Linked DNA regions of Homo sapiens. The protein of the gene in region 1 purifies or fractionates together with the protein of each later gene. This does not show direct contact. Each region holds a gene or a part of one and is shown in the gene's direction. Other genes may lie near its edges. The genes, in order: CS, SGK1, ITIH3, EIF5B, TXNRD2, NFU1 and SOD2.

Evidence for each region.
Region 2: the proteins of CS (region 1) and SGK1 purify together in Homo sapiens (co-immunoprecipitation; one large-scale study listed by IntAct). This does not show direct contact.
Region 3: the proteins of CS (region 1) and ITIH3 fractionate together in Homo sapiens (co-fractionation; one large-scale study listed by BioGRID). This does not show direct contact.
Region 4: the proteins of CS (region 1) and EIF5B purify together in Homo sapiens (affinity purification with mass spectrometry, with the first as the bait; one large-scale study listed by BioGRID). This does not show direct contact.
Region 5: the proteins of CS (region 1) and TXNRD2 fractionate together in Homo sapiens (co-fractionation; one large-scale study listed by BioGRID). This does not show direct contact.
Region 6: the proteins of CS (region 1) and NFU1 fractionate together in Homo sapiens (co-fractionation; one large-scale study listed by BioGRID). This does not show direct contact.
Region 7: the proteins of CS (region 1) and SOD2 fractionate together in Homo sapiens (co-fractionation; one large-scale study listed by BioGRID). This does not show direct contact.

The regions. Positions count from the first base shown.
Region 1 is NC_000012.12:56,289,777-56,294,157, reverse strand, and holds part of CS (citrate synthase, mitochondrial precursor), read left to right. Parts: intron 1-4,381. UniProt on the Homo sapiens protein: Key enzyme of the Krebs tricarboxylic acid cycle which catalyzes the synthesis of citrate from acetyl coenzyme A and oxaloacetate.
Region 2 is NC_000006.12:134,171,054-134,175,112, reverse strand, and holds part of SGK1 (serine/threonine-protein kinase Sgk1), read left to right. Parts: intron 1-246; exon of another isoform or gene 247-305; coding exon of another isoform or gene 306-381; intron 382-526; coding exon 527-602; intron 603-1,032; coding exon 1,033-1,108; intron 1,109-1,546; coding exon 1,547-1,651; intron 1,652-1,755; coding exon 1,756-1,839; intron 1,840-1,958; coding exon 1,959-2,090; intron 2,091-2,338; coding exon 2,339-2,451; intron 2,452-2,796; coding exon 2,797-2,920; intron 2,921-3,380; coding exon 3,381-3,476; intron 3,477-3,934; coding exon 3,935-4,059. UniProt on the Homo sapiens protein: Serine/threonine-protein kinase which is involved in the regulation of a wide variety of ion channels, membrane transporters, cellular enzymes, transcription factors, neuronal excitability, cell growth, proliferation, survival, migration and apoptosis.
Region 3 is NC_000003.12:52,797,561-52,801,941, forward strand, and holds part of ITIH3 (inter-alpha-trypsin inhibitor heavy chain H3 isoform 4 preproprotein), read left to right. Parts: intron 1-256; coding exon 257-370; intron 371-1,405; coding exon 1,406-1,531; intron 1,532-1,811; coding exon 1,812-1,928; intron 1,929-2,192; coding exon 2,193-2,361; intron 2,362-2,977; coding exon 2,978-3,103; intron 3,104-3,404; coding exon 3,405-3,586; intron 3,587-4,381. UniProt on the Homo sapiens protein: May act as a carrier of hyaluronan in serum or as a binding protein between hyaluronan and other matrix protein, including those on cell surfaces in tissues to regulate the localization, synthesis and degradation of hyaluronan which are essential to cells undergoing biological processes.
Region 4 is NC_000002.12:99,361,187-99,365,567, forward strand, and holds part of EIF5B (eukaryotic translation initiation factor 5B), read left to right. Parts: coding exon 1-634; intron 635-2,458; coding exon 2,459-2,676; intron 2,677-3,084; coding exon 3,085-3,235; intron 3,236-4,381. UniProt on the Homo sapiens protein: Plays a role in translation initiation.
Region 5 is NC_000022.11:19,931,334-19,935,714, reverse strand, and holds part of TXNRD2 (thioredoxin reductase 2, mitochondrial isoform 5 precursor), read left to right. Parts: intron 1-1,984; exon of another isoform or gene 1,985-2,048; intron 2,049-2,188; exon of another isoform or gene 2,189-2,274; coding exon of another isoform or gene 2,275-2,281; intron 2,282-3,161; exon of another isoform or gene 3,162-3,345; coding exon of another isoform or gene 3,346-3,358; intron 3,359-4,381. UniProt on the Homo sapiens protein: Involved in the control of reactive oxygen species levels and the regulation of mitochondrial redox homeostasis. Maintains thioredoxin in a reduced state. May play a role in redox-regulated cell signaling.
Region 6 is NC_000002.12:69,416,316-69,420,696, reverse strand, and holds part of NFU1 (NFU1 iron-sulfur cluster scaffold homolog, mitochondrial), read left to right. Parts: intron 1-1,092; coding exon 1,093-1,159; intron 1,160-4,381. UniProt on the Homo sapiens protein: Iron-sulfur cluster scaffold protein which can assemble [4Fe-4S] clusters and deliver them to target proteins.
Region 7 is NC_000006.12:159,675,574-159,679,954, reverse strand, and holds part of SOD2 (superoxide dismutase [Mn], mitochondrial isoform A precursor), read left to right. Parts: 3' UTR 1-4,381. UniProt on the Homo sapiens protein: Destroys superoxide anion radicals which are normally produced within the cells and which are toxic to biological systems.

The DNA.
Region 1 (4,381 bases):
GAAAATGACAGTTAGGTAGAATTATTAAGGAAATGTCTGTAAGTATGAAGGAGGTCAAAGTATGAAATCTGTAGATTGCTCAGGCTTTTAAGTGGCCTGACCATGTAGTGCCAAACCGACTTCCAGTATCACCGTTGTGAAACACACACATTAAATGGCTTTAGTTCTCTGACCTGGTTCTGGGGAGAGAGGAGCCTTTGTCCTATTTGTGTTCGTGTTCTCTGAATGCAAGTTGTTCCTTCTGCATTGGAAGTGTCTGTAGTACAGGATTTTTTCCTACTGGTTATTAGTGTATTGTGTTTGCTCCATCAGCTAAGCCAGTCCTGCTGGCTTGGCAAGCTCTGATCTTTTGTTGATGAAGGACGAAGTCCCTGTTAAAATCAGGAGCTTCTTCCGCAAGGTTTTTCTGTTTTGTTTTCTAATTTTTTTTAGTATTATTATTTTGAGACGGAGTCTTGCTCTGTCACCCAGGCTGGAGTGCAATGGCGCAATCTCAGCTCACTGCAACCTCCGTCTCCCAGGTCCAGGCGATTCTGCCTCAGCCTCCCGAGTAGCTGGGACTATAGGCATGTGCCACCACGCCTGGCTAATTTTTGTATTTTTAGTAGAGATGGGGTGTCACCATGTTGGCCAGGCTGGTCTTGAACTCCTGACATCAGGTGATCCACCCACCTTGGCCTCCCAAGGTGTTGGGATTACAGGCGTGAGCCACCGTGTCCAGCCTGTTTTCTAATTTTTTAAATTATTTTTTGTAGAGACAGAGTCTTGCTTTTTAATTCAGAAATGCTGGGATTATAGGCATGAGCCACTGCGCCCAGCCTCCCCCAAGGTTTTAATGTTGGTTATGTGGATATGTGGTAGGACATATCCTGGATATGCAGAAGGACAGAGAGAGTCTGGATGTACCTAGGATGGAGAATCAAAGAAAATTTGGCTTCTTGACTGTAGGGTGAGGGTGCTAGATGTGGAACAGTGATGGTAATAGGCTAAGGAGTAAGAGGAAAATAACCTATATTGAGTAAGTGGGCTTTTTTTGTTTTGTTTTGTTTTTTGAGACAGAGTCTCCTCTGTTGCCCAGGCTGGAGTGCAGTAGCACAATCTCAGCTCACTGCAGCTTCAGCCACCTGGGTTCAAGCGATTCTTCTGCCTCAGCCTCCTGTTTGAAATGCTTGTTCCCTGGTGCTGTAAAGAAATAGCACTTGAACATAAATTTAATTAATTTAATTTAATTTACTCAGCAAGGCCTTTTTTTTTGAGACAGAGTCTCACTCTGTCGCCCAGGCTGGAGTGCAGTGGTGCGAACTCGGCTCACTGCAAGCTCTGCCTCCCAGGTTCACGCCATTCTCCTGCCTCAGCCTCCTGAGTAGCTGGGACTACAGGCGCCCGCCATGACGCCCGGCTAATTTTTTTTTTTTTTTTTTTTTTTTGTATTTTTTTAGTAGAGATGGGGTTTCACCCTGTTAGCCAGGATGGTCTCGATCTCCTGACATCATGATCCGCCTGCCTTGGCCTCCCAAAGTGCTGGGATTACAGGCGTGAGCCACCGCGCCAGGCCATCAAGGCCATTTTTATACTTTCTGCAGAAAGGGTACACGCCAGCAGTTTTGCCACGAGAGTACACCGAGCAAAGGAGACAGGGTCATTTATACCCTGATGCATCCACCCTACTGCTGTGTCCAGTTCCAGTTTCCATTGGCTGGAATGGGACCTCACATTTTGTATTTGTCCTGATTGGCTAGCAACTTAGAACTTTTTTTTTTTTTTTTTTAGACCAAGTCTTGCTCTGTCAGCCAGGCTGGAGTGCAGTGGCACAATCTCGGCTCGCTGCAGGCTTTGCCTCCCGGAGCTTCTCCTGCCTCAGCCTCCCGAGTAGCTGGGACTACAGGCACCTGCCACCACACCTGGCTAATTTTTTGTATTTTTTAATAGAGACGGGGTTTCACCATGTTAGCCAGGATGGTCTTGATCTCCTGACCCCGTGATCTGCCTGCCTTGGCCTCCCAAAGTGCTGGGATTACAGGCTTGAGCCACAGTGCCCAGCTGCAACTTAGAACTTTTTTAAAGAGGCAAAGGCAGAGGAGAACAAAGGAAGGTGTGAGTCACCATACCTGGCCTCTTTTAATTTTTATATTTTTTCATCTTACCACATTTGAGGGCTACAGCCCACCTCTATCAATAATAGCTGACTCACTAGAGGAGTTCTTGTAAGGGGTGGCAACAAATGAGCTCTTAGTGATTGTGGGGGAAAAACCTCTTCGTGATTGTGATAACGCCACCTCCACCCTATAGAGAATACTGGCTGTCAGACATTGTGAGCCAGGCCCTTGTCTTTGGAAGTAGCCCTCTCCATCTCTCCCCATGAAGGAGCTGACCTATTGAGTGAGATGACTGCCTGATTCTCCTGAGAGCTGCTGTTCCAGTAAGGTGACTCTACAGGTGGCATGCATCCAGAAGCCAAAAGCCCAACTGTCACACCTCCAGGATTAGGGGAGAATCTGGGAGGTAGAAGTTCAGGGATGATTCAGAGGTTTGTAATCTACCTGTCTCATCAATGAACATAACCTGAATGTACTGTTCAGAGCCATTCAGCAGCTTTCTTTGGCAGCCACGGGGTAGAGGAAATGAAATGTAGCCTTTGATGTTACAGTCCTCAAGCACCTCCTGTCTAGAGTCATTTGCTCTGCTGGTGGCCATCAGGGTTAGTTAAATTTGTTTCCTCTCCCTGAGATGCCTCCCTTCTTGGTCAAGAAGCCCTTAAAAAGAAAACTGGTATCTTTTCCTTGATGCCTGTTAAAAAAAAAAAAGAAAGAAAGAAAGAAAGAAAATTGGGACTTTATTTTGTATTCCACAGCTGGAAGGAATTATCCATTCACCTCTGCCTCAGGCTTGACTGCCTCTTTCCTGGGATCCAACTCCCAGGAAGTTCTGACACTTGATGGTAGGTGATAGGCCAACACATTTGTAAGAAACAAATATTTACTGAATTCAGCTATGCACAAAGCACTGTTCTAGATGCTTTTATGAAAATTATTTTATTTAGTTTACTTAACTACTCTGAAATTGGCTTTTATTATTACCATTTTAGAAATGTAAAAACTGAGACTTAGAAATTAGGTTACATAGCCAAGATAACACAGTGGGAAGGTGGCAGAACGTTCATTTAGGACTTGGTCCTTGGTAACTCCATATCTAAACTGTTTGGATTCAGTAAGTCTGAGGCCCAAGAAATGTAAATACTTCTGGCGAGGAGGTCACATTTTAAGTAACAAGACTTGACTACTTTTGCATATACGTCCTTATTGGAACCTGAGAATCAGACTCTGAGTTAAGTAGTTTAAGTGTTATCTTAATTATGGAAATGGGAAGAGAAATAGTAGTTCATTGTTTTCCTTTGGTTGTCTTAATTAGTAATGGAGCTAGGACTAGAACCCAGACTTCCTTTCCTAACTCCAAATTAAGTGCTCTGTACTCTACATCATTAGATAAAGTTGTCCTAAGTTGAATTTTTTCTACTCTACCCTTTTGAGCAATCTTACCAATGAATTGCTGCCTTTAAAATTCCTCTGATAACTTTTTTTTTTTAAGCTTCAGGTTTAGCAAAAAACATGACTGAACCTGACACCGAACGGTGCTAGAAAGTGGCTATCAGGCTGAGCGCGGTGGCTCACGCCTGTAATCCCAGCACTTTGGGAGGCCGAGGTGGTGGATCACGAGGTCAGAAGTTCGAGACCAGTCTGGCCAACATAGTGAAACCCCATCTCTACTAAAAATACAAAAAATTAGCCGGGTGTGTTGGTGTGCACCTGTAATCTTAGCTACTCAGGAGGCTGAGGCAGGAGAATAGTGTGAACCTGGGAGAGGGAGGTTGCAATGAGCTAAGATTGTGCCATTGCACTCCAGCCTGGGTGACAGTGTGAGACTCCTTCTCAAAAACAAACAAACAAACAAAAAAACATAAAATCTTCCGGGCACTGTGGCTCATACCTGTAATCCCAGCACTTTGGGAGGCTGAGGCAAGTGGATCATTTGAGGTCAGGAGTTTGAGACCAGCCTGGCCAACGTGGTGAAACCCTGTCTCTACTAAAAAACTACAAAAATTAGCTGGGCATGGTGGCGGGTGCGTGTAGTCCTGGCTACTCGCGAGGCTGAGGCAGGAGAATCGCTTGAACCTGGGAGGCGGAGGTTGCAGTGAGCCAAGATCAAGCCACTGCACTCAGCCTGGGCAACAGAGCAAGACTCGGTCTCAAAACAAAACAAAACAGAAAGTCAGCTGGTTGCAGTGGCTCATGCCGGTAATCTCAGCACTGTGGGAGACTGAGGTAGGAAGATCGCTTGAGCCCAGGAGTTCAAAGCCAGCCGGGGCAACATAGCAAGACCCCCG
Region 2 (4,059 bases), on another chromosome or scaffold:
GAGCCGATGGAGACTGATAACGGCCCTGCGCCAGGCCGTCCCCGGGCGGTCCTCGCGCCCCCGCCCGGGGCTCGCCCTCTCAATGGGGACAGAACCGCCCGCCGCAGGCAGCGTAGCCGCCAGCAAACCGCGAGGCGGCCGGGGCGGGGCGAGGGGCGAGGCGAAGGGCGGGGCCACTTCTCACTGTCGCGCAGGCCCCGCCCCCGCGGCGGTGCCTTTTTTATAAGGCCGAGCGCGCGGCCTGGCGCAGCATACGCCGAGCCGGTCTTTGAGCGCTAACGTCTTTCTGTCTCCCCGCGGTGGTGATGACGGTGAAAACTGAGGCTGCTAAGGGCACCCTCACTTACTCCAGGATGAGGGGCATGGTGGCAATTCTCATCGGTGAGTGCAGGAATCTTGCGGGACTTCTGCTCCAGGAGACGCAAAGTGGAAATTTTTTGAAAGTCCCGGATCAGATTAGTGTGTGTGGCGCCGGACGTTATGAAGCCGTCTAAACGTTTCTTTATTTCTCCTCCTTCATCCACAGCTTTCATGAAGCAGAGGAGGATGGGTCTGAACGACTTTATTCAGAAGATTGCCAATAACTCCTATGCATGCAAACAGTAAGTTTGACCGGATTTGAGGAAATAACTAGTATAGTTTGAATTTGCCAGCGGTAAACATTCTCATCACGGCGTTTATCGGGAAGGCGAAGACTTCTTCTGGGGTGGGGATCTCATTTCTCCTTAAATTCTAATATATTTGACACATTTTAAACATTAAAGTTAATTTGCTGATTTGGCTTGAACTGGAGATGTAAGATAAATGGTTCGTGTTGGCCGAATTCACGGCCTTTCTCCATGAGCAACAATCCTTATTTCTGTATTTAATGGGGTTTATTATTTTCTTTAACTGACTAATGTATTGGGGTATTTTCAGTTTAAACAGTGAATTATCCGGGTAGAAGTCGGTAGAGCCAGAAACTCACTTTTGATGTTGGTGTGCCCCCTAGTGGCGAGCTGGATTCTAAATCGTGCCCTTTATTCCCTGCAGCCCTGAAGTTCAGTCCATCTTGAAGATCTCCCAACCTCAGGAGCCTGAGCTTATGAATGCCAACCCTTCTCCTCCAGTAAGTTTTTGTATGTGCCGTGCATCTGTGGAGAACTGTAAGGGAGTCAGTTAGTATTCCTACATTAATGGATTAAAATAGCATTTCTAGAAATTAGTATCAAGGCAGGAATGCTTCATTATGGCATAACAAGTGATATAAATATTTAAGTATTGAGTCAGAGTATTATTTTATTTTTTTCCTGGGCATATTTTACCTCCAAAGTGGTTATTTTAAAAGGCATATTTCATAAAAAGGTTTTATCTGTCTGAAACAACATGACTGTGTGCAGTTTCCATACTCATTTGAAATGTGATGAAATGTAGTTTTGAATGTTTATAGATGTATGGTCATTTGCATCAGTCATTTGTAGATGTAACATTTTCTACATCGTTTATGTTATAGATGTCTTCCTTTGAAGCAATGGTATTAAAAGAAATTCTTTTTTTTTTTTTCTAGCCAAGTCCTTCTCAGCAAATCAACCTTGGCCCGTCGTCCAATCCTCATGCTAAACCATCTGACTTTCACTTCTTGAAAGTGATCGGAAAGGGCAGTTTTGGAAAGGTAATTTCAAATCTGAAGATCTTTTGGTACACTTCCTTCATGTCCTCTTTTGTATTCTCCCTGGATGAGGATAGAAAAATGATTTTTTTAAATTGAAATTTCAGGTTCTTCTAGCAAGACACAAGGCAGAAGAAGTGTTCTATGCAGTCAAAGTTTTACAGAAGAAAGCAATCCTGAAAAAGAAAGAGGTATGAGATGTGCTTGATGGGGCTGGCATTGGCGGTAGACACTCCTTGAATAATCTTGATTCTGGAATGTTGGTGCCAAGTTGAAACATGCCACTAAATCTGAATCGTCATTTTCCTAGGAGAAGCATATTATGTCGGAGCGGAATGTTCTGTTGAAGAATGTGAAGCACCCTTTCCTGGTGGGCCTTCACTTCTCTTTCCAGACTGCTGACAAATTGTACTTTGTCCTAGACTACATTAATGGTGGAGAGGTGAGCAGGGGGGATAGAAGTCAACTCTTAGTGTCTCTGCACAGCCTGCTTTGTTTTAGTTTGAGAAAAAAGTTTTCAAAGATTTTTGGTGGGGAGAATGTTACCAGAATTAGCATTTCCTTCAACCTGTCAGGTTTATAGTTAATAGATTACTTGGGGCCACTTCCTGCAGTTGTTCTTTTGCTGTGTATGTCAAAACTAATTAAATTCATTTGCAACCCAGAATGACTTTGTTCTGTCTCCTGCAGTTGTTCTACCATCTCCAGAGGGAACGCTGCTTCCTGGAACCACGGGCTCGTTTCTATGCTGCTGAAATAGCCAGTGCCTTGGGCTACCTGCATTCACTGAACATCGTTTATAGGTAAGCCTGAGAGCTCTTCAGGCTACCAGTTTTGGTATAAAGGAGACGTAGCACTGGCTGTTTCATAGGGCCTTAAAATAATTTGTGTTTATTTGCAACTTGGTTGCCTAAAACCAGATCCCCTAGCACGTGAGCTGGCTTGACTTAAGTGCCAAGGGGGAACCAGCCAAGTAGGATTGTGCCTAATCCAGAATAGATGAGCAGAACAAGGGCTCCCTTTTTTCTTCACTACACAACTACAGTGAACCTAAAATGCCTCTAATACCTTTAGCAATTATCTTTAAGAGGATATCTTATGAAGTGAAATTAACTTGTGCAACTACTTTTCTATTCACTTTTTTACAGAGACTTAAAACCAGAGAATATTTTGCTAGATTCACAGGGACACATTGTCCTTACTGACTTCGGACTCTGCAAGGAGAACATTGAACACAACAGCACAACATCCACCTTCTGTGGCACGCCGGAGGTAGGCGCTGTCTTGGTTTGGTGCCTGGTTTACCCCCGCCTTCCAAGAGAGAGATGTACAATCATGCACTTAACTACCAAAAAGAGTAAACTCCTCTCAGAGACTTCTTAATACAGTTCAGTGCAAATAAAATACATTTGCTGTTTGATGTAGCATGAGAAATCCCAAGTCCTTCTGTTCCTTTACTGAAAAGTAGCTGTTTGTAAGTAAGATCTGCATCATAAAAACTTTCTAAATCCCTAAGTAAGAGATATCAAGTGCCCAGCAGTTTCCTAAATGTCAGTACACATAGGTAGCCAGTCACCCTCAAAAAGTCCAGCAGTTTTATCAGGAAGGAATCTAAAGATATCTATCTTCCAAGCTGGCTCTGGGTCTCTCAGCTTTTTCAAACTAAATGTGTGGTCGTGGGATTGCTTGCTTTCGCAGGTTCTAAACGCTGTTTCCCTGGTCTGTTTTTCAGTATCTCGCACCTGAGGTGCTTCATAAGCAGCCTTATGACAGGACTGTGGACTGGTGGTGCCTGGGAGCTGTCTTGTATGAGATGCTGTATGGCCTGGTGAGTGGCACATTGGGAACCATGGAACACTGCCTGCTCCCTACAATATTGCCTTCACACAGCCCATGCTTGGCCATGGTGTCTTGCCCTTACCAGTACGCTTATCAAAAGCAGCTAAGAGGCATATTGGTTATTTTATAGTTCATAAGAATAATCACTTACCTGGTTCTTTTGTGCATTTCACATTTTACTAGATAGGACCACATTGAACCTGTGTGGTGGTGAAAAACTACCACTTATTAACATCTACCCCCTCACCCTCCACACACACACACACAAACACACACACGGGTTGCAAAGTAGACACTTAAATAGCAAGGGAAAAGAAAGCATTGAGGTGGGGAGAGTTTCTCAAATCGAGCCTAATATTTATTGCCGTTTATATCTTTTTCTCTACTGGTAATGTGTGCCATATGAAACTTCCAATTAAGTCTAAAGTAATTTTCCCCTTCTTTCAGCCGCCTTTTTATAGCCGAAACACAGCTGAAATGTACGACAACATTCTGAACAAGCCTCTCCAGCTGAAACCAAATATTACAAATTCCGCAAGACACCTCCTGGAGGGCCTCCTGCAGAAGGACAG
Region 3 (4,381 bases), on another chromosome or scaffold:
AGCTGAAAGCCAAAGGAAAAGCATCAGTGGTGGAATTTCGGGCGCATATGGCAGGCGGTGGTAACACCTCCCGATCAGCATACTCTCCTCCAAGCCCCTGTGGTCACTTTCGCAGTGGGAGACACCAGGCTTGGCCCTCAGCACTGTCCTAGAGGGTCCCTGCATCACCACAGACCCATCTCATTCCCATTGGCCTTGTTCTGGGAACTGGCCTCTGAGGTCACTGAGTGACATTTCCTTACTTTGGCCATTTCAGATCGAGGTAGACATCTTCGAGCCTCAGGGAATCAGCATGCTGGATGCTGAGGCCTCTTTCATCACCAACGACCTCCTGGGAAGCGCCCTCACCAAGTCCTTCTCAGGGAAAAAGGTGATGTAGATGCCTCTCAGACCTGGTGGGGCAGGGGACAGGAATACTGACTCCAGCAGAACAAGCCTGCAGCCTAGGGCTTAGCTGCTGCAAGCATGCATGTGTTGGGGTGGGGCTGGGGATCAATCTGCAACTATCACCTTCCTCCTTGCCCACTGGGGTTGGGAGTGAGGATGCTGAGGGCAGGGGCTGCTGACAATGACCTGCCAGAGGAGCCATTTACAAAGCCTGGTCCCGTTCCCCCTTGGGAAATGGACAGGGCAGGGCTTATCTTCCCTGTTTTACAGGTCCCGAGGCTGAAGCCCAAGGGAGTCATTTAGATCTACTGACTCCACAATGAGAGGTGAAAGACTAAAGAGAACTTCATTCTTGGTGCTAGGTGGTTGACTCCAGTCCCCAAGGCTCCCAGCTGTTCCAGGGGCCTTAATGGCAGTGGACAGTGGGTGAATAAATGTTTGTATAAACAACAAACCAATCATCCAGGACTTCCAGGGCGAGGCCCGAGGAGCACACACTCAGAGGACTGCTGGCTTCTGCAGGGCCACATCCTGCCCCGGGACCCTCCTCCTCCCCTTTCTCCTCCTTTCTCCCTCCCCTCCTCTTGGCACCCACACACCAACATTCCAAACCTACAAGAAATTCCTTTTAATGGGAAGCTACCCCTTCCCTAAGTAGCTTCTCAGTGCTGAGCTCCAAGGTAGCCTGGGCTAATGGGTGTGTGAGGCCAAGAAAAAGGGAGCTGGAAGCTGAATCAGCCAAGGCCTGTGCCCAGCCAGGAGCCCTGATCTCCAAGGGGAAAAGCGGTGCTCAGAAAGGCCGGAGCGTGGTAAACAGTGCCTTCCAGTGAGTCCTGGGAGCTGCAGAGCACGCCACCGGCGGGCAGGGCTGCCCAGGCCTCCAGCTCTTGCTAGCCTCTGCCCTGCCAAGGGCTCCTCCCTGTGAGGCTGCACCTCTGCTCCCTCAGCTAAGGGCTGAGGTCTCCCAGTGGGCAGGCCCTGGCCGAGCTGAGCAAGGTCTTTCATCTCCATCCCTTAGGGCCATGTGTCCTTCAAGCCCAGCTTAGACCAACAGCGTTCATGCCCAACCTGTACAGACTCCCTCCTCAATGGAGATTTCACTATCACCTATGACGTGAACAGAGAATCTCCTGGCAACGTGCAGGTACCCGGGCTGGCTGATTCATCATCAGGGTGGGGCGAGGGCTGGTCGGGCGGGGGCTGCAGCTGGATCTAGTGCCATCACCCTGGGTCCTCAGCCCAAGGCTGTTTTCCTGCAGGATGTGGGACAGCTGATGGCCTAGAGCCTGGTGCAGCACCCCCTAGAGGGTGGGATAGGAACGTCTTTTTCTTGGGCTGGTAAATGTCTGGCTTCTACCTGCAAGAATAGTCAATGTGGTGTTGCTAAAAGGACACCGGCCTCCGTCCCTCTCCCCACTTTCCAGATAGTCAATGGCTACTTCGTGCACTTCTTTGCACCTCAAGGCCTTCCAGTGGTGCCTAAGAACGTGGCCTTTGTGATTGACATCAGCGGCTCCATGGCTGGTCGGAAATTAGAGCAGGTAATCAGCACCAGTGGCACAGCCAGGGCTCGGGGTAGTAGGGGGTGGAAGAGATTTTTTTTTTTAACTGGAAAAAGCTGATCTTTGTGGTGAATGAGGAGAAAGGGGACAGGATAAGAGAAGGCTCACGGCCTCTGCCCGCTTCTGTGGCAAGCCTCAGGCAGGGCTCGCTGGTGCAGATGGCGTGGGCTGCACCGCCTGCTGAGCTGAGAAGGGACCTCACTCTCTGCTGCGGCTTCTCCCAGCTCTTTGTCTCTCCTCCAGACAAAGGAGGCCCTTCTCAGAATCCTGGAAGATATGCAAGAGGAAGACTATCTGAATTTCATCCTGTTCAGTGGAGATGTGTCCACATGGAAAGAGCACTTAGTCCAGGCCACGCCCGAGAACCTCCAGGAGGCCAGGACGTTTGTGAAGAGCATGGAGGATAAAGGAAGTAAGAGCGGAGCTGGAGCCCACACACCTCCTAGCGGTGCCTCCCTCTGTCCCTGAGCAGCCTGCAACCCCCCTCTTAGGGACTCTGCTGGTCTCAGGCCCTCTTCAGATCTGAGCTGGGGTAGAGGTGGGAGTGGATGGTCCTCAGGCTTGAAGACAGAATATCGGCTGTCTTCTCCGTGGTCCAGGGAAACCCATTCTTTCTGTTTCTAATCCATGATCCTGGTATCTCACAAGTCCCAGCAAGATAAGGCCACAGAGAACCCTTCTTCTTGGCCCTGTTTCATATGGAAAATGGCACGATGTCTACACTGCTCCCCTCTCCTCCCAGCAAGAGGTACTGGGAGTCCATCCAACTCTGCCAAAGGGCTTTCACAATCACCATGTGCTTTTCGTCTTCACCATGTGCCTTTCATCCCCATTTGAAAGTGGAAGTTGTTTGTTTGTTTGTTCATGTGGTGGTTCATTCATTGTTTGCTGAGTACCACCATGGGCTGGCAGATAGGGTCCTTGGGCACATGAGTGGGGCCGGCTGTCCCGGCCTCCTCCGCTCCAGCCTGTCTGCACACTGGCACCCTGAGGACACCCTCCCACGGTGCTGTCTGTCTGTGTCCCAGTGACCAACATCAATGACGGGCTGCTGAGGGGCATCAGTATGCTGAACAAGGCCCGAGAGGAGCACAGAATCCCAGAGAGGAGCACCTCCATTGTCATCATGCTGACTGATGGGGATGCCAATGTTGGTGAGGAGCACGGGCATGGTTTTGAGCTAGGGCTGGAGTGCTTGGCTGCTGCTCCTGGCTCTGTAGCTGGCTCATTGGAAAACCTGGGGCAGCTCTTCCCTGGGTTCCCTGTGGTCTGGGAGCCCCTCAAGGGCAGGGTCCTGCCTCCCTCTGCCAGGGCTCTCCACCACCTGCCCCACAAGGGCTCATGGTCGTGACTCCAGCAACTCTGCATGTGCAGGAGTCCGGTCTCCCCAGACAGAGCTGGTCTAGACCATCCCCAGGGCTGGGGCTGGACTGTGAACACCCCCTTCTCCAACAGGTGAGAGCAGACCCGAAAAAATCCAAGAGAATGTGCGGAATGCCATCGGGGGCAAGTTCCCCTTGTATAACCTGGGCTTTGGCAACAATCTGAATTATAACTTCCTGGAGAACATGGCCCTGGAGAACCATGGGTTTGCCCGGCGCATTTATGAGGACTCTGATGCCGATTTGCAGTTGCAGGTATGCCTTGTCTTGCACACTTCCGGGCATAAGGAGCTCACTACTTCCTCAGACAGCTGCTCCATAAGGTGACAGTTCTAGTTATTAGGAAGAGCTTCGTCTTGGGTCAAAATCCACCTCTGACTATCTCTTACCCATCAGTAAAGATTCTGATTTTGTCCTTGGGCTACACAACAGGCCCGTTTCTTCAACAGGATTATCAGAGCAAACACAGGACATCTGGTTCAATATGAATTTCTGATAAATAATGAATTTTTGTAGTGTAAGTATGCCCCAAATATTGCACAGGACATTGTATTAGTGTATGGCGGCTGCCATACCAAAGTACCAAGTGGCTTCAATGAGAGAAACGTATTGTCTCCCAGTTCCAGAGCCCGGACATCCCAGATCCATGTGGCGGTGGGTTGGTTCCTTCTGAGGGCTATGAGGGCAGATCTTTCTAGGCCTCTTTCCTTTTCTCCATGGCTTATCAATGGCTGTCTTCTCCCTGTGTCTGCACATGTCTTCCCTCTGGATGTCTGTGTCCAACTCCCCTTTTAATAAGGACATCAATCATATTGGATTAGGGCCCATACTCATGACCTTATTTTGTAGACCCTATCACCAAATAAGGTTGAACTTTAGGAGTACGCTATTCAACCCATAACAGACATACCTACACTAAAAAATTATTCATTGTTTATTTGACCTTCAATGTAGCTGCACGTCCTGTCTTTGCATTTGCTGAATCTAGCAATTTTGTTCCTTCTCTAGGCAGGTAATGGCATCTCCACCTCTGCAGGGCGACCACCCCAT
Region 4 (4,381 bases), on another chromosome or scaffold:
AAAAAAAAGAAAGGACAGAAGGGCAAAAAACAGAGTTTTGATGATAATGATAGCGAAGAATTGGAAGATAAAGATTCAAAATCAAAAAAGACTGCAAAACCGAAAGTGGAAATGTACTCTGGGAGTGATGATGATGATGATTTTAACAAACTTCCTAAAAAAGCTAAAGGGAAAGCTCAAAAATCAAATAAGAAGTGGGATGGGTCAGAGGAGGATGAGGATAACAGTAAAAAAATTAAAGAGCGTTCAAGAATAAATTCTTCTGGTGAAAGTGGTGATGAATCAGATGAATTTTTGCAATCTAGAAAAGGACAGAAAAAAAATCAGAAAAACAAGCCAGGTCCTAACATAGAAAGTGGGAATGAAGATGATGACGCCTCCTTCAAAATTAAGACAGTGGCCCAAAAGAAGGCAGAAAAGAAGGAGCGCGAGAGAAAAAAGCGAGATGAAGAAAAAGCGAAACTGCGGAAGCTGAAAGAAAAAGAAGAGTTAGAAACAGGTAAAAAGGATCAGAGTAAACAAAAGGAATCTCAAAGGAAATTTGAAGAAGAAACTGTAAAATCCAAAGTGACTGTTGATACTGGAGTAATTCCTGCCTCTGAAGAGAAAGCAGAGACTCCCACAGCTGCAGAAGGTTGGTTAATACTTTAGAGGAAAGAGCAAAAGGCTTTTGATTCACAGTATAAGTTGTAATCATTGTGCCCCAAGGTCGTTTTGTTATTTGTCCATGGGTATAAAGACACTTGATTGTAAGGAGCCATCTAAAAAATTACGTCTAAGTATTTGACTTGATTTGCATTGTTAATTCTTTACATATATAGTATAAATATCTTTCAGATTATTTATGTACAGACTGGAATTTTTATAGAATTGCATTATGAAAACTATTTTTTTTGCTGTTGATAAAGGCTATAGAAGTTACTTAATGAAAAATTTATTCTTCCTTTCTGATAACTCAGTGTCAGATAATATTTGAATTCTTTCCTGTCTTTAAAAACCTAGTTCAATTTATGAAATTCACAAAGAAATGTTTTCATGAAGTTGCTAATATTTTCTGCTTCACTTAAAACTCAACATGCTAAAATTAGTGTCTTTTAAGCAATAATGAGCCATTTTTTTAACAACCAATTATAAAATAAAAGTTCTAGCTAATTTCTTCCTCTTATTTAGAATGAAAATAGCTAAAGATCAGATGGTTTGCATGGCCATACTATATTCTTAAAACAGTAGTTTTTGGGCTGGGCGCGGTGGTTCACGCCTATAATCCCAGCACTTTGGGAGGCTGAGGCAGATCACGAGGTCAGGAGATATAGACCATCCTGGCTAACATGGTGAAACCCCATCTCTACTAAAAATACAATAATTAGCCGGGCATGGTGGCGGGCGCCTGTAGTCCCAGCTACTCGGGAGGCTGAGGCAGGAGAATGGCGTGAACCCAGGAGGCGGAGCTTGCAGTGAGCGGAGATCGCACCACTGCACTCCAGCCTGGGCAACAGACTGAGACTCTGTCTCAAAAAACCAACAAAAGCAGTAGTTTTTCTTTTGACTGGAAAACTTTTAATGGGAAAATTGACACAACTTTTTTTTTTGAGACGGAATTTCACTCTTGTTGCCTAGGCTGGAGTGCAATGACACGATCTCAGCTCACTGCAACCTCCTCTTTACAGGTTCGAGTGATTCTCCTGTCTCAGCCTCCCAAGTAGCTGGGATTACAGGAGCCCGCCACCATGCCCGGCTAATTTTTGTATTTTTAGTAGAGATGGGGTTTCGTCATGTTCGCCAGGCTGGTCTCGAACTCCTGACCTCAGGTGATCCATGCACCTCAGCCTCCCAAAGTGTTGGGATTACAGGTGTGAGCCACCGTGCCCAGCAACTTTTTTAAATGCTAGCATATTTATTATCTGGATATATTCGAGGAGGAACACCATGAAAGTACCTTCATAGCTTTTAATTCTTTAGAGTTCTTGGAGTATAACTACCTATATTTTTGTATTTTATCCTACTAATACCCCCTAAAGTGGACATCATTCTCATTAACTCCATCTTGTAGAAGTGAAATTAGCTACAGAACTTACGTGGGTGTTAGTTCATTCTGATTGTTAGAACTTCATATAAGCATCTGTTGGACACCAGCCACTCAGGTACCATGGATTTAGAGATACATTAGGTACAGGATTGCCCTTTTGCTGCTGACAGTATCCTTCTGTCTTACTGTATTCCTCAGGACATCTGAGACCAACATCAGTATTGCAGACTTCTCAGGAGGCCATCTGTGAGTTATTCTGAGCTATTCTAGTTACCAAAGTGCTCAGGATGCCTTGATGCCTGTAGAACTTAGCCTGCTGCTGGCATCGGCCTTGGCCCATTATGGTCCTTGAATTGTGGTTGGGTTTTGCTCGTCATCACCACAGGGAATTGTTTTTTCATTTCAATGCTTTGCCTTTATTCTTTTTGGTAGATGACAATGAAGGAGACAAAAAGAAGAAAGATAAGAAGAAAAAGAAAGGAGAAAAGGAAGAAAAAGAGAAAGAGAAGAAAAAAGGACCTAGCAAAGCCACTGTTAAAGCTATGCAAGAAGCTCTGGCTAAGCTTAAAGAGGAAGAAGAAAGACAGAAGAGAGAAGAGGAAGAACGTATAAAACGGCTTGAAGAATTAGAAGCCAAGCGTAAAGAAGAGGTATGTTTTCATGAAGTTGGTAACATTGATATTGTGTTTAACTTAAAATCTATTCTCTGTAAAATATCTTTACTCTTCTAATTCTGAAAATTTCATAGTTGCATGGTAATTCAGTTATATTATTGTTCCGATACAAATAATAAGATGAAGAGGTACAGCACATCTTATCTTTATTTTCTCAAGAACAGATTGCTCGATACATAAGTTGCTTATGTATCATTGCCAATAATCTGATGTGATATTAATTAATAATCATGTATAACATTTAAAATACTTTGATTTGGAATCTCCTAACATAATACTTTGCATGTGTCTCAAGAGATTTATTTGAAGTTTGGATTGTTTACATTTGAATTTTATAGTTCATTAAATGAATACAGGTTTTGTCTGACATGTACTCTTTTATAGGAACGATTGGAACAAGAAAAAAGAGAAAGGAAAAAGCAAAAAGAAAAAGAAAGAAAAGAACGCTTGAAAAAAGAAGGGAAACTTTTAACTAAATCCCAGAGAGAAGCCAGAGCCAGAGCCGAAGCTACTCTTAAACTGCTACAAGCTCAGGGTGAGTGGTACTCTTCATTAACTGAATGGTCAGAGAGCTCTGCACATGCAGTTATATCCCTTAATGTTCAGAAGGAGAATGGAATTTGCATCAGGACAGTTCCTATGAAAAATCTGTGAAAAAGTTCAGTAAAACGTAAGGAATAGGTGATGTCATTTCATTGTTTAGGAAGATGACATCTACATGAGGATAAAAATTTATATGTAAATGATAGTATGTCTAAATAAGTTATCCTCCCACAAACAAGAATAGTGATAATAATAGAATGAGTCCCTGTGTACCTATCAGCCAGCTTCAACAATTAGGACCATTTGACATTCTTGTTTTGTACCTCTCCATCTACTTTTTATCCTAGCATGTTTTAAAGTGAATCCCAAAAAATAAAAAAGAAATACAGTGATTCCCAGACAGCATATTAGTTTGCCCACATGACCACGGTGAAAAAGTATTCATGACCATTTTTTTTTAACCCTTTCCTTACTTTCTGATGCAACAAGATATCCCAGGTTCATCTTGCATGGGCTGAGACCTGGAATCGGTTGTTTATCCAAAGAGCTTTTGTTCCTTTTAGAGGGTAATAGTGTTTAGAGATCACAACTGGGCATATAATTTATTACTTTTTTGAAAGGTAAGGTGATTTAAAATAGTGTCTTTGCTCCAATGAGAAGAATATATTGGGACCTCTCTTAAATTTCCTGCTCCTATATTCCCTAGATTTTTATATTACAGTCATTTTGGTGTTTATGCTATAATTACAGTAATAGCTACCATTTATTGTGTGCTTAGTGTGTAACTGATGCTACAATGTCTTTGACATTGTCTATTTTTCCCTCATAAAAAAATCTTATAGCTATTTTTACTTCCATCATATAGATGAAGAAATGGTGGTTCAGAGTGTAAACAGCTTACCCAAGGCCACAGAGCTGAAATTTAAGCTGGTCTGTGCAACTTTTTCTTACGCATATGTTCAGCTAGGAACATTAGATGTGAAGAAACCCAGTACTTAGATTTTAGAAAGTTTTATTCTTAATGGAGAATATAGCTTTTGTAAAATTTTAAATGAAATTAGGTACAAACTTGAATATAGTTAGCATTCATACATCAGATTTCATTGGTGACTATTGGAGAGGCTAAAAGCACCCATGA
Region 5 (4,381 bases), on another chromosome or scaffold:
GCCGGCTGAGAAATGAAGAGAAAGAGTACAAAGAGGAATTTTACAGCTGGGCTGCTGGGGGTGACATCACGTATCGGTAGGACCATGATGCCCACCTGAGCCGCAAAACCAGCAAGTTTTTATTAAGGATTTTAAAAGGGGAGGGGTTGTGCCAATAGGGAGTAGGTCACAAAGATCACATGCTTCAAAGGGCAAAAGGCAGAGCAAAGATCACATGCTTCTGAGGAAACAGGACAAGGGCAAAATCAGAACTCCTGATAAGGGTCTATGTTCAGCTGTGCACATATTGTCTTGATAAACATCTTAAACAACGGAAAACATGGTTTAAGAGCAGAGAACCAGTCTGACCACAAATTTACCAGGACGGAGTTTTTTCCCCACCCTAATAAGCCTGAGGGTACTGCAGGAGACCAGGGCGTATTTCAGTCCTTATCTCAACCGCATAAGACAGACACTCCCAGAGTGGCCGTTTACAGACCTCCCCCCAGGAATGCATTCCTTTTCCAGGGTCTTAATAGTAATATTCCTTGCTAGGAAAAGAATTTAGCGATATCTCTCCTACTTGCACGTCCATTTATAAGCTCTCTGCAAGAAGAAAAATATGGCTCTTTTTGCCTGACCCCACAGGCAGTCAGACCTTATGGTTGTCTTCGTTCCCTAAAAATCACTGTTATTCTGTTCTTTTTCAAGGTGCGCTGATTTCATATTGTTCAAACACACGTTTTACAATCAATTTCTACAGTTAACACAATTATCACAGTGGTCCTGAGGTGATGTATATTATCAGCTTATGAAGATAACAGGATTAAGAGATAAAGACAGGCATAAGAAATTATAAAAGTATTACTTGGGGGCCCAGGCGCGGTGGCTCATGCCTGTAATCCTAGCACTTTGAGAGGCCGAGGCAGCCATATCACAAGGTGAGGAGATCAAGACCATCCTGGCTAACATGGTGAAACCCTGTCTCTCCTGAAAGTACAAAAAATTAGCCAGGTGTGGTGGCGGGTGCCTGTAGTCCCAGCTACTCAGGAGGCTGAGACAGGAGAATGGTGTGAACCCAGGAGGCGGAGCTTGCAGTGAGCTGAGATTGTGCCACTGCACCCCAGCCTGGGCGACAGAGAGAGAATCTGCCTCAAAAAAAAAAAAAAGAAAAAAGTATAAAAGTATTACTTGGGAATTGATAAATGTTCATATTGAAATGAAATCTTCACTATTTATGTTCCTCTGCCACGGCTCCAGCCAGTCCCTCCATTCGGGGTTCCTGACTTCCTGCAACACAGGTGTGAGCCACTGTACCCAGACTAGGGGTGCAGTTTTTTTTTTTTTTTTTTTCTGAGACAGAGTCTCACTCTGTTAACCAGGCTGGAGTGCAGTGGTGCTATCATAGCTCACTGCAGCCTTGAACTCCTGGGTTCAACTCACCCTCCAGCCTCAGCCTCCCTAGTAGCTGGGACTGTGGGCCCTGCAGTTTCTCCTTTTAGAGTAGGAAGACCTGAACTGTCCCAGGCTTGGAGTGGGTGGGCGATGCAGCCCCTGAACAGGAGCCAGAATGACAACACCTGCTGCCAGGAAAGAGCTCTAGATAGAGCAGCCATACAGGAGGGCCCCTGAGGTGGCACCCTGAGGTGGCCAGCCTGCCTGTGGGTGCACATTTTGGGGGACCCTTCCACTTGCCCTCACTGGTGCAGTGCTGCATTCTCTTGGGCCTTGCTATGAGCTCTGGGCTCCTGCTCTTTGCTGGCCTGTACCAGGCAGTGGGTTCAAAGAGGAGCAGAAAATTAATGGACAATATGTCAGAAGGCAGAGGCAAGACAGACACTTGCTGGGGCCAAGCCCTGCAGGTGGAGAGGGTATGCCTGGCTAAAGTGGGTGAAAGGCAAGGTTATGAGGTTCTCCAGGACACTGGAGTGCACAGGTGGTGTGTCCCCAGGTAACGCCTGCCACCCAGCCCTTCCTCCCACAGAACAGCATCTGCCCTACCCACCTTTGAGGTACTTTGGGGTCCTTCCTTCCCAGCAGGCTACCCAAGCCCTTCCAAGTGCTTAAAGGCAGATTTCCTATGCTTGCAAACGACTGCCCTATGCCAGTGTTTATCAGCCCGAGAGGGCTCCTGGGTGTGCACAGGGGGCGAGCAAGCTGCCCAAGATAAGCACATCCATACAGACAGCTGCTCACCCTGCCTGATAGCAGACAGAGGGGGCACAGTGCGAGGCTGCAGGGCAGGATGACCTAACAAGGGCCCTGCTATGGCAACAAGAAGGACAGGCACCTGCCATGGAAGGTAGGGACGTTCTGAGCAAAGCTTCCGGCTACCAGGCAGCTGGAGGAGAGAGATGCTTCTCCATCAGCAGGTTCATGCTCCCCGGGGGACCTGGTGGCATTTTCTCCCTGACCAGCAGTCCTTGGTTCTCTAGACTTATATTAAAGCCATTAGAATAATTTACAACAATTTAGGCCTTTCCAGAGCCCTTGAGTTGAATTAGGAATTGAGTGTGCTTTGGACTGGCTGTTGGAACCGAGTTGTGGCTCTGTCAGTTCCCGCAGGTGCGCACACATCTCACGTGCACTCAGAGGCTGGCTGCCAGGTGAAAGAGTGGGTGGGTTTGGTTGTGGGGCAGGCTCGCTGCAGGCCATGGCCTGAGTGCCTGGATGCAGCTTCCCAAGCTTTCTCAGCTGTGAGCCAGGGCTCCTCTAGGCTCCAGCTCTTGTATCCTTTAGGAGTGCATGTTCTAGACCTGTCTGTGGGGCATCTGCAGGGCCAGGGTGTGGAGAGACATGACACTCCAAGTACACTCTCTGCAGCCTTGCCTGCCTAGGAAGGTGGAGGTGGCTGCAAAGATAAGTGCAGCCTTCTCATGGCAGACGCTAGGCTCTGATGGAGGTGTTGGGCAGGTTGCCCAGCCTTGTATGACAGACCCTGCTCTGATCATGGAACCTCTTGGCCTTGTCTGAAGCAGCGACCGGCTCCAGATGCTCTGGGAGGGTGGTGCTTCTCATCTGGGCAGGCTCGTGTCTGCAGAGGGGCTGAGGGCACTACTTGTTTTATACCCTAGAGTCTTGTCATCAGTCCCCACCCTGCCCTCACCCCAGCAGACTGATGACTTGCTATTATTTCTTCCTTCCTTCAGCAGGGAGTTGGCTGGTGCCTGGTGCTGGGTGTCCCGGACCTCAGGCCCAGTTCAGTGTACTTCCCCTCTCTACTTCCTCCCTCCAGTCCCTTCTCCATCCCTCCCTTTTTTGGCTGCCCCTTGCCTGCCTTCCTCGCCAGTAGCTTGCAGAGTAGACACGATGACACCTTTTGCAGGCTAAAAAGGCTGAGAGTGGCACTATGTGCAGTGAGCCACCATGGAGGACCAAGGTGAGGCGACACCACAACCAGCCCAAAAGGAATTCCAGGGATGAAACCTGAGCCCAGGCAGCTCTCCCTGTGCCCAGGGTGGCTTCCCTCCTAGCTGACTGCAGCTGGGCACACCAAGACCCTGGCTGTGTGCACTGGCCAGCTGTGAGGGACAGGGGCTGCTTGTGCTTTTATTCTTTTTTTTTTTTTTTTTTTTGAGACGGAGTCTCACTCTGTCTCCCAGGCTGGAGTGCAGTGGCGTGGTATCCGCTCACTGCAAGCTCCGCCTCCCGGGTTCACGCCATTCTCCTGCCTCAGCCTCCCGAGTAGCTGGGACTACAGGCGCCCACCACCATGCCCGGCTAATTTTTTTGTATTTTTAGTAGAGACGGGGTTTCACTGTGTTAGCCAGGATGGTCTCGATCTCCTAACCTTGTGATCCACCCGCCTTGGCCTCCAAAAGTGCTGGGATTACAGGCGTGAGCTACCGCCCCTAGCCTGTGCTTTTATTCTTGCTCACTTGTGACGGAGGGCAGCCTTCACAACTGAAAGGCACGTGGACTTGAGAATGTTTTAGTCCACCTTGGTGGCTCATGCTTGTAATTCTAGCACCTTGGGAGGCCAAGGTGGAAGGATTGCTTGAGGCCAGGTGTTTGAGACCAGCCTGGGCAACATAGCCAGACCCCATCTCTACAAAACAAAAAAATTTAGCTGGACGTGGTGATCGGTGCTTGTAGTCCCAGCTATTCTGGAGGCTGAGGCTAGAGGATCACTTGAGCCCAAGAGGTAGAGGCTGCAGTGAGCTGTGATTGTGCCACTGTGCCCCTGTCGTGGGGGCCCTTCCGGGTCTATGTCCCAGCCCTGTGCTGACCGTGTTCCTTCTCACCTTTCATCCCTCCCCCAAGCAGGGCAGTGGACTACAATCTTCTGGGTGACAGAGTGAGATCCTGTCTCAAAAATAAATAGAATAAAAAAGAAAATATCTTAGTTCTGTGTCTGGCTGAGAACACTGGGTGAGGTTTGAGTTCAGAGTGGTTGGTATGG
Region 6 (4,381 bases), on another chromosome or scaffold:
GAAGTTACTTGCACATGTGCCCAAGATACGTGCAGGGATGTATTTACTGTCATAGACATCTGAGACATACAAGTGAAGAAAGCAACTTGCAGAACAGTGAGTCCAATATGATACTATGTATATAAAAGCAAAAACCACAGAACAACAAATGCACTGACAAAAAGATCTGGAAGAATACACACGAAACTGATAACAGGATTTGGTAGGGGTAGTCAAGGGGCATTTAAATTTTATTGTTTGAAACATTTACATCAAGAATGAGTTCATATTTTGTATTAAAAAAGTAAAAGTAAAAAAGCCCCAATTAATTCAGTTATAGATTAGTTAGAGATTATTTCTGTCAGATGTTCAGTTGGCAAAATCTCTTTTCAAGTTAGTCTTTTGAAAATAGTCTGTTTAGGCTGGGTGTGGTGGCTCATGCCTGTAATCCCAGCACTTTGGGAGGTGGGTGGATCACCTGAGGTCAGGAGTTGAGACCAGCCTGGGCAACATGGTGAAACCCCATCTCTACTAAAATACAAAAATTAGCTGGGCGTGGTGGTGGGCGCCTGTAATCCCAGCTACTTGGGAGGCTGAGGCAGGAAAATTGCTTGAACCCAGGAGGCGGAGGTTGCAATGAGCCAAGATCTCACCACTGCACTCCAGCCTGGGGGACAGAGGGTGACTCCGTCTCAAAAGAGAAAAAAAAAAAAATAGTCTGTTTAGTGCTCAGTACAGTGCCTGGCACTTAGTAGGTGTCAAATATTGGTTGAATGAATGATTGATAGTATAGATATAGCAGTCTATTCATTCACCAGGTGATGGACATTTCCATATTTTTCTGTATGTGTGGCTATTTTAAATGAAGCTGCTATGAAGATTTATGTACAAGTCTTTGTGGAGCACGAGTTTTTATTTCTTTTGGGTAAATAACTAGGAGTGGGATTGCTAAATCGTAGAGTAGGAATATAAAACAAAATTGGCCATGAGTTGATCATTGTTAAAGCTGCAAAGGATATGTGGAGAATTTTTTACTTTTCTCTACTTTTGTGTATGTTTAAACTTTTCCATAATCAAGCATTTTAATATCTCTTATTTTTTCTTTTTTTGCAGGCAGTTATTTAGGATTGAAGGAGTAAAAAGTGTCTTCTTTGGACCAGATTTCATCACTGTCACAAAGGTAAACATAGGATTATATAAAATAAGACTTGAAATACTCTTCATTTTTTTCTGAGTCCAATGCCTCTCTCTCCAACATTTCCATTCTTTCTGTTCTTTAATTTTTATATTTTATTTTTGAGACAGGGTCTTACTCTCTTGTCCTCTAAATGTCACAAGAATCAAGCGAAATATGCTATGTTTTTCTTTTTCTTTTCTTTTTCTTTTTTTTGAGATGAAGTCTTGCTCTTGTCCCCCAGGCTGGAGTGTGATGGTGCGATCTTGGCTCACTGCCACCTCTGCCTCCCAGGTCCAAGTGATTCTCCTGCCTCGGCGCCCCCCCCCGCCACCCTGAGTAGCTGGGATTGCAGGCGCCTGCCACCATGCCCAGCTAATTTTTATATTTTTAGTAGAGACAGGGTTTCGCCATGTTGGCCAGGCTGGTCTAGAACTCCCGACCTCAGGTGATCCACCCGCCTCGGCCTCCAAATTGCTGGGATTACAGGCGTGAGCCACCACGCCTATAAAAAATATGCTATGTTTTTCAACAGTCAAGGCAGTATCTGCTAGAAAGGGCTGTTCCATTTTTGATGTCTACTAGATTAATGGGACATGAACTATTTAAATTTGAACTATGTATCCTTTTAAATCTGTTAATTGACATATATCCACGGAACTTAAATCACTTGCCTGATAGTGTGTGAAAATCAAAAATATTTATTAAACTCCCCTTAAGCAAATTGAAAGGATTAGTCTGAGCTCTTTATGTCCTTAAAAGTGGACATACTGGGGGCCGGGTGTGGTGGCTCACGCCTGTAATCCCAGCACTTTGGGAGGCCGAGGTGGGCAGATCATGAGGTCAGGAGATCAAAACCATTCTGGCTAACATGGTGAAACCCCGTCTCTACTAAAAATACAAAAAAAAAGTAGCCGGGCATGGTGGCGGGCGCCTGTAGCCCCAGCTACTCAGGAGGCTGAAGCAGGAGAATGGCGTGAACCCGGGAGGCGGAGCTTGCAGTGAGCGGAGATCGGGCCACTGCACTCCAGCCTGGGCGACAGAGCGAGACTGCATCTCAAAAAAGAAAAAAAGGGGACATACTGGGTTAGTGACATGTTAAATCTAGTCATCTAGTCCAGTATTCTCTTGCGGCTATTTATTTAGAGACAAAGTCTCACTCCACACCCAGGTCAGAGTGCAGTGGCATGATCTCAGCTCACTGCAGCCTAAGCCTCTTGAGCTTAAGCAGTCATCTCACCTCAGCCTCCCTAGTAGCTGGGACTATACGTGCATACCACCATGTCCAACTAATTTTTGTATTTTTTGTAGAGATAGGGTTTCGCCATGTTTTCCAGGCTGGTCTCAAATTTCTGAGCTCAAACAATCTGCTCACCTCGGCCTCCCAAAGTGCTGGGATTACCGGTGTGAACCACCACGTCCAGCCCCCCATTCTTCAGTTTTCTTTCTTCCATATTTTTTAAGGAGAAGAAGGGATGAACATTTATTTAATATATTCAATGTCGGATATGGCCCTAGTGCTTTACATATGTTATCTAATTCTTACAACTAGTTATTTTATAAGTGGGAAATTATATATTTATTTTTTAAAGTTATTTAGTTCTTTTACGTATAGCCTATGCTATATAAAAATTTTTATAGGTAAAAATGTGATTATATCTTAAAGGGTTTTGGTTTTTTTTTTTTTCCTATTTTTCTTGATTAGATTTAGTAAGTCATCTTTTAGCTCTCTTACTTTCATTATTTAGTTACCCTATTTGAAATTGCCCTAGCTCTACAATTTTTTCTTAAGTGAAATGACATAACCAATAGATAATATCCCAAGTTAGGGTATATGTTGATACACATATATGTATGTGTGTGTGTATATCTATCTATCTACACATACATATAGATGGGATCTTGCTCTGTTTCCCCAGGCTGGAATACAGTAGTGCGATCATGGGTCACTGCAACCACTAACTCCCAGGCTCAAGCGATCCTGCTGTCTCAGCTTCCCGAGTAGCTGGGACTACAGGTGCATGCCACTATGCCCAGCTAATTTTTTTTTTATTTTTTTTTATTGTAGAGACAGTGTCCTTCTATGTTGCCCAGGCTGGTCTCAAACTCCTGGGCTCATGCAATCCTTCTGTCTCGGCCTCCCAAAATGTTGGGATTACAGGTGTGAGCCACCACGCCTGGCCCACGTTGGTATTTAATAGACGGAATACTGGATTTATTTTGTTTTCTTCCAGTAATGTTTCTCATCATGGACTATCACATTTTACTGAATGTCTTCAGCAATCGCCTGTTTCTATTTCTGATTTCCAGTTGATAATTAGACTTCTTTATGCATCATTTGTGTTATTTTTTTCTAAATATATATGTATATTTGCAGCTTATATGCTGCCCTTTTTTTCTCATTCAGACAACTTTAGAATATTTTTTCTTTTTATTACCAATATTTTCCTATTTAGTAGAGCCTGCTATTTACTGAAGATCTGAGGTAACACTCTGATTTGTTTTCCAAATAATTTATTACCTACAACTAGTTTCCATTCCCAATCACTAAGATATTTCACTAGTTTTACTTTTATAACCTTAGCAGTCCCCATTTATCTCACCTTTTATGTACTATCTCTATATTGTTTCCTTTTTTTGTTTTTTGAGATGGAGTCTCACTCCGTCGCCCAGGCTGGAGGGCAGTGGCACGATCTCGGCTCACTGCAACCTCCGCCTCCCGGGTTCAAGCGATTCTCCTTCCTTGGCCTCCCTAGTAGCTGGGATTACAGGCCTCTGCAACCACGCCGGCTAATTTTTGTATTATTAGTAGAGAAAGGTTTTCACCATGTTGGCCAGGCTGGTCTCAAACTCCTGACCTCAGGTGATCCACCCGCCTCGGCCTCCCCAAAGTGCTGGGATTACAGGCATGAGCCACCATGCCCAGCCAAATTTCTTTCATACCCTTTAAGTAATATATATAAGTAAATTTTTTGAATAGTTGTAGGCTGTTCCGTATACTTGATCAAGCAATTACATCCTATGTTTTTTTTAAGAGAATGGGAATCTCTTTATCATCTTCTTTAAAGACAGAAAATCCATTTAATATTTTGTCTTCACATCATGAAAAACATCTTTTAATCATTTAAATCAAATTAAAACAATGAAAGTGAATGAATTAATAATAATATTATTACTAATATATTAATAATTATATTTAAATTAATTAAATATTAATTTTTATTAATT
Region 7 (4,381 bases), on another chromosome or scaffold:
TGGAAAAGGAGACTTTAAGATTGTTTAGGGCTGGGCGGGGTGACTCACATCTGTAATCCCAGCACTTTGGGAGGCCAAGGCAGGCAGAACACTTGAAGGAGTTCAAGACCAGCGTGGCCAACGTGGTGAAACCCTGTCTCTACTAAAAATACAAAAATTGTTTAGCTCTGTTTTTCATAATAGAAATAGAAAAGGTAAAATTGCTTTTCTTCTGAAAAGAACAAGTATTGTTCATCCAAGAAGGGTTTTTGTGACTGAATCAGCAGTGCCTGCCCTAGTCATAGCTGTGCTTCAAAAACCTCAGCATGATTAGTGTTGGAGCAAAACAAGGAAGCAAAGCAAATACTGTTTTTGAAATTCTATCTGTTGCTTGAACTATTTTGTAATAATTAAACTTTGATGTTGAGAAATCACAACTTTATTGTACACTTCATTGCAACTTGAAATTCATGGTCTTAAAGTGAGATTTGAATTTCTATTGAGCGCCTTTAAAAAAGTAATACCAAACCATAAAGTTAAAATCTATGTATATTGAGTCATATCTAAAACCACGTATAAACATAAATTGTATTTCCTGTTTTAATTCCAGGGGAAGTACTGTTTGGGAAAGCTATTATTAGGTAAATGTTTTACAAATTACTGTTTCTCACTTTCAGTCATACCCTAATGATCCCAGCAAGATAATGTCCTGTCTTCTAAGATGTGCATCAAGCCTGGTACATACTGAAAACCCTATAAGGTCCTGGATAATTTTTGTTTGATTATTCATTGAAGAAACATTTATTTTCCAATTGTGTGAAGTTTTTGACTGTTAATAAAAGAATCTGTCAACCATCAAAGAGGTCTGCATTATGCTTGCATGTCAAAAACTTTAAAAATCCTATAATCTTCTGTCATTTTCACTGAGTTTCCATGGGAAAGGAATAGTAAATAATGGGTAGTTGAAATATTACTCTTAAGACCAAGACCTGTATCTCCAGTCATATCTGTAATAACATCATCTGATAACCTAAAAGCATAGTATTAGGGATATACGACAAAACCAAAGTGTTTTTGCTGTTGTCACATACCACTCAATACTTTTACACCAGGTTGTCCAGTGGACACCAGCTGGATGTCCTATAATTCAATTCTGACACTGTCTACCTGGAATTGGAGTCAGATCCCACAGGTGGAGGGCTCAGCCCACAAGACTGCCCCCACTCCAGATACCAATCGCAAGTCCCTATACTTCTGACTGGCTATAAAGTGGGGTTCCCGTGACCCTTTCCTTGGTTTTGATTTATTTGCTAGAGCAGCTCCCAGAACACAGAGAAACACTCTACTTATGTTTACCCATTTTTAATTTTATTACTTTATTAAAACTACATATTGGTTACAATACTAATTTATTGTAAAGGATATTTCATTTATTTATTTTTTTATTTAGAGATGGAGTCTCACTGTGTCACCCAGGCTGGAGTGCGGTGGCACAGTCTCAACTCACTGCAACCTCCACCTCCTGAGTTCAAGCGATTCTCATGCCTCAGCCTCCCAAGTAGCTGGGATTACAAGTGTGCACCACCATGCCCAGCTAATTTTTGTATTTTTAGTAGAGATGGGGTTTCACTCTGTTGGCCAGGCTGGTCTCAAACTCCTGACCTCAAGTCATCCACCCACCTCAGCCTCCCAAAGTGCTGAGATTACAGGTGTGAGCCATTGCCTCTGGCTTGTAAAGGATATTTCAAAGAATACAGATGAACAGCCAGATGGAAGAGATGCACAGGGCAAGGCATGTGGGAAGGGGTATGGAGCTTTCATGCTCTCTCCACGTCATCAGCTACCCAGAAGCTCATCTGGACCCCGACCCTTTGGGGTTTTACGGAGGCTTCATTATGTCAGCATTACCATTGGCAATTGGCGATTAACTCAACCTTCAGCCTCTCTCCCCTTTCTGGAGGTTGGGGGTTGAGGCTGGGAGTCCAAACCCTCCAATCTTGCCTTGGTCTTTCTGGTAAGCAGCCCCCCGTCCTGAAGCTACCTAGAGGCTCCCAGCCACCAATCATTTCATTGGCAAACCAAAGATACTTCAAGGGGTTTAGGAGCCAAGAGACCAAGCAAGGATTGAGACAATATATATATTTCTTATAAATAACATGATCACAAATAGTATTTTATATATTTCTCATAATAGCTGGTTGTGGTTACTCACACCTATCATCCCAGCTACTAAGAAGCTAAGGCAGGAGGATCACAGGCCCAGGAGTTTGCAGCTGTAGTGAGCTATGATTGTGCTACTGCACTCCAGCCTGGGTGACAGTGTGAGACCCTGTCTCTTAAAGTTCTTGTAACATCTTAGAACATTAACCAACCACAGATTATTGCCTTAACTCTGAAAAATAAAGTAATCATACTTTTACAAGATGTATTTTACATAAAGTTCTGGTGATATTTTACTCTGGTCATTGGAATATAGGAGCTTACCACCTGGTACCACTCTTCCTAAAGTGGTATACTATTTGGTATAGTACTGGCATACTATTTGGAAAGGGATGTGAAGTTGGCATGACCTGTCTAGGGTGAAGTCATGCTGTCTGCTATTCATTGTGGGCTTTACAGTAATGAGAGTGCTTCTGTTGTCAAGATGCTTCTGGGACACGTTAAAAAAAATTTAAGATTTCTCAGTTTGTGAAAAGGAAGGAGCACGAATGCTTTCAAGTTCCTATGACATGCTAGTCATCTTTCAGTGTGTCCCATTGTTGCACCCAGTAGTCTCGATGCCCAGCGTCACGGTGATTCCAAGTTTGCCTCTCTGCCCACTATAATTTGTGCTCCATGAAGTCCCAGGACATGAGGTTCTTGTTCATTTGTGCGTCTGGGCCCATATCCAAATATTAAACAATGTGACTTAATGTATTTATCATATTGTAAATATGGGTATCCCCAAGGCTCAGAAGTTAACACAGCATATCCACAGAGAGGTTTGACAGCATGGCTGTGGTGACTGGGAAGGCCTTATGCTTGCTCCTCCTTCTGCTGCTTGCCTTTGTGTGGGCATGGAAAGAACATTGAATTAGGTACTGGAAGACCTGGGTCCTGGTCTTGGAGATTTTACCAGAGCACCTGTGGGATATTGGTCAAGATGCCTGGTTTTAGTCCTGCTCCTTTGCTGTGAAAGAGGATCTTAAGGTGCCAACTCTGGCATTTTATTTTTTACTTATTTATTTTTAAATTATACTTTAAGTTCTAGGGTACATGTGTACAACATGCAGGTTTGTTACATGTATACATGTGCCATGTTGGTGTGCTGCACCTATTAACTCGTCATTTACATTAGGTATATCTCCTAATGCTATCCCTCCCCCTTCTCCCCACCCCTCGACAGGCCCCGGTGTGTGATGTTCCCCTTCCTGTGTCCAAGTGTTCTCATTGTTCAATTCCCATCTATGAGTGAGAACATGCGGTGTTTGTTTTTTTGTCCTTGGAATAGTTTGCTGAGAAGGATGGTTTCCAGCTTCATCCATGTCCCTATAAAGGACATGAACTCTTCCTTTTTTATGGCTGCATAGTATTCCATGGTGTATATGTGCCACATCTTCTTAAACCAATCTATCATTGATGGACATTTGGGTTGGTTCCAAGTCTTTGCTATTGTGAACAGTGCCACAATAAATATACGTGTGCATGTGTCTTTATAGCAGCATGATTTATAATCCTTTGGGTATATACCCAGTAATGGGATGGCTGGGTCAAATGGTATTTCTAGTTCTAGATCCCTGAGGAATCGCCACACTGTCTTCCACAATGGTTGAACTAGTTTACAGTCCCACCACCAGTGTAAAAGTGTTCCTATTTCTCCACATCCTCTCCAGCACCTGTTGTTTCCTGACTTTTTAATGATTGACATTCTAACTGGTGTGAGATGGTATCTCATTGTGGTTTTGATTTGCATTTCTCTGATGGCCCATGATGATGAGCATTTTTTTCATGTGTCTGTTGGATGCATGGATGTCTTCTTTTGAGAAGTGTCTCTTCATATCCTTCACCTACTTTTTGATGGGGTTTGTTTTTTTCTTGTAAGTTTGTTTGAGTTCCTTGTAGATTCTGGATATTAGCCCTTTGTCAGATGAGTAGATTGCAAAAATTTTCTCCCATTTTGTAGGTTGCCTGTTCACTCTGATGGTAGTTTCTTTTGCTGTGCAGAAGCTCTTGAGTTTAATGAGATCCCATTTGTCAATTTTGGCTTCTGTTGCCATTGCTTTTGGTGTTTTAGACATGAAGTCCTTGCCCATGCCTGTGTCCTGAATGGTACTGCATAGGTTTTCTTCTAGGGTTTTTATGGTTTTAGGTCTAACATTTAAGTCTTTAATCCATCTTGAATTAATTTTTGTATAAGGTGTAA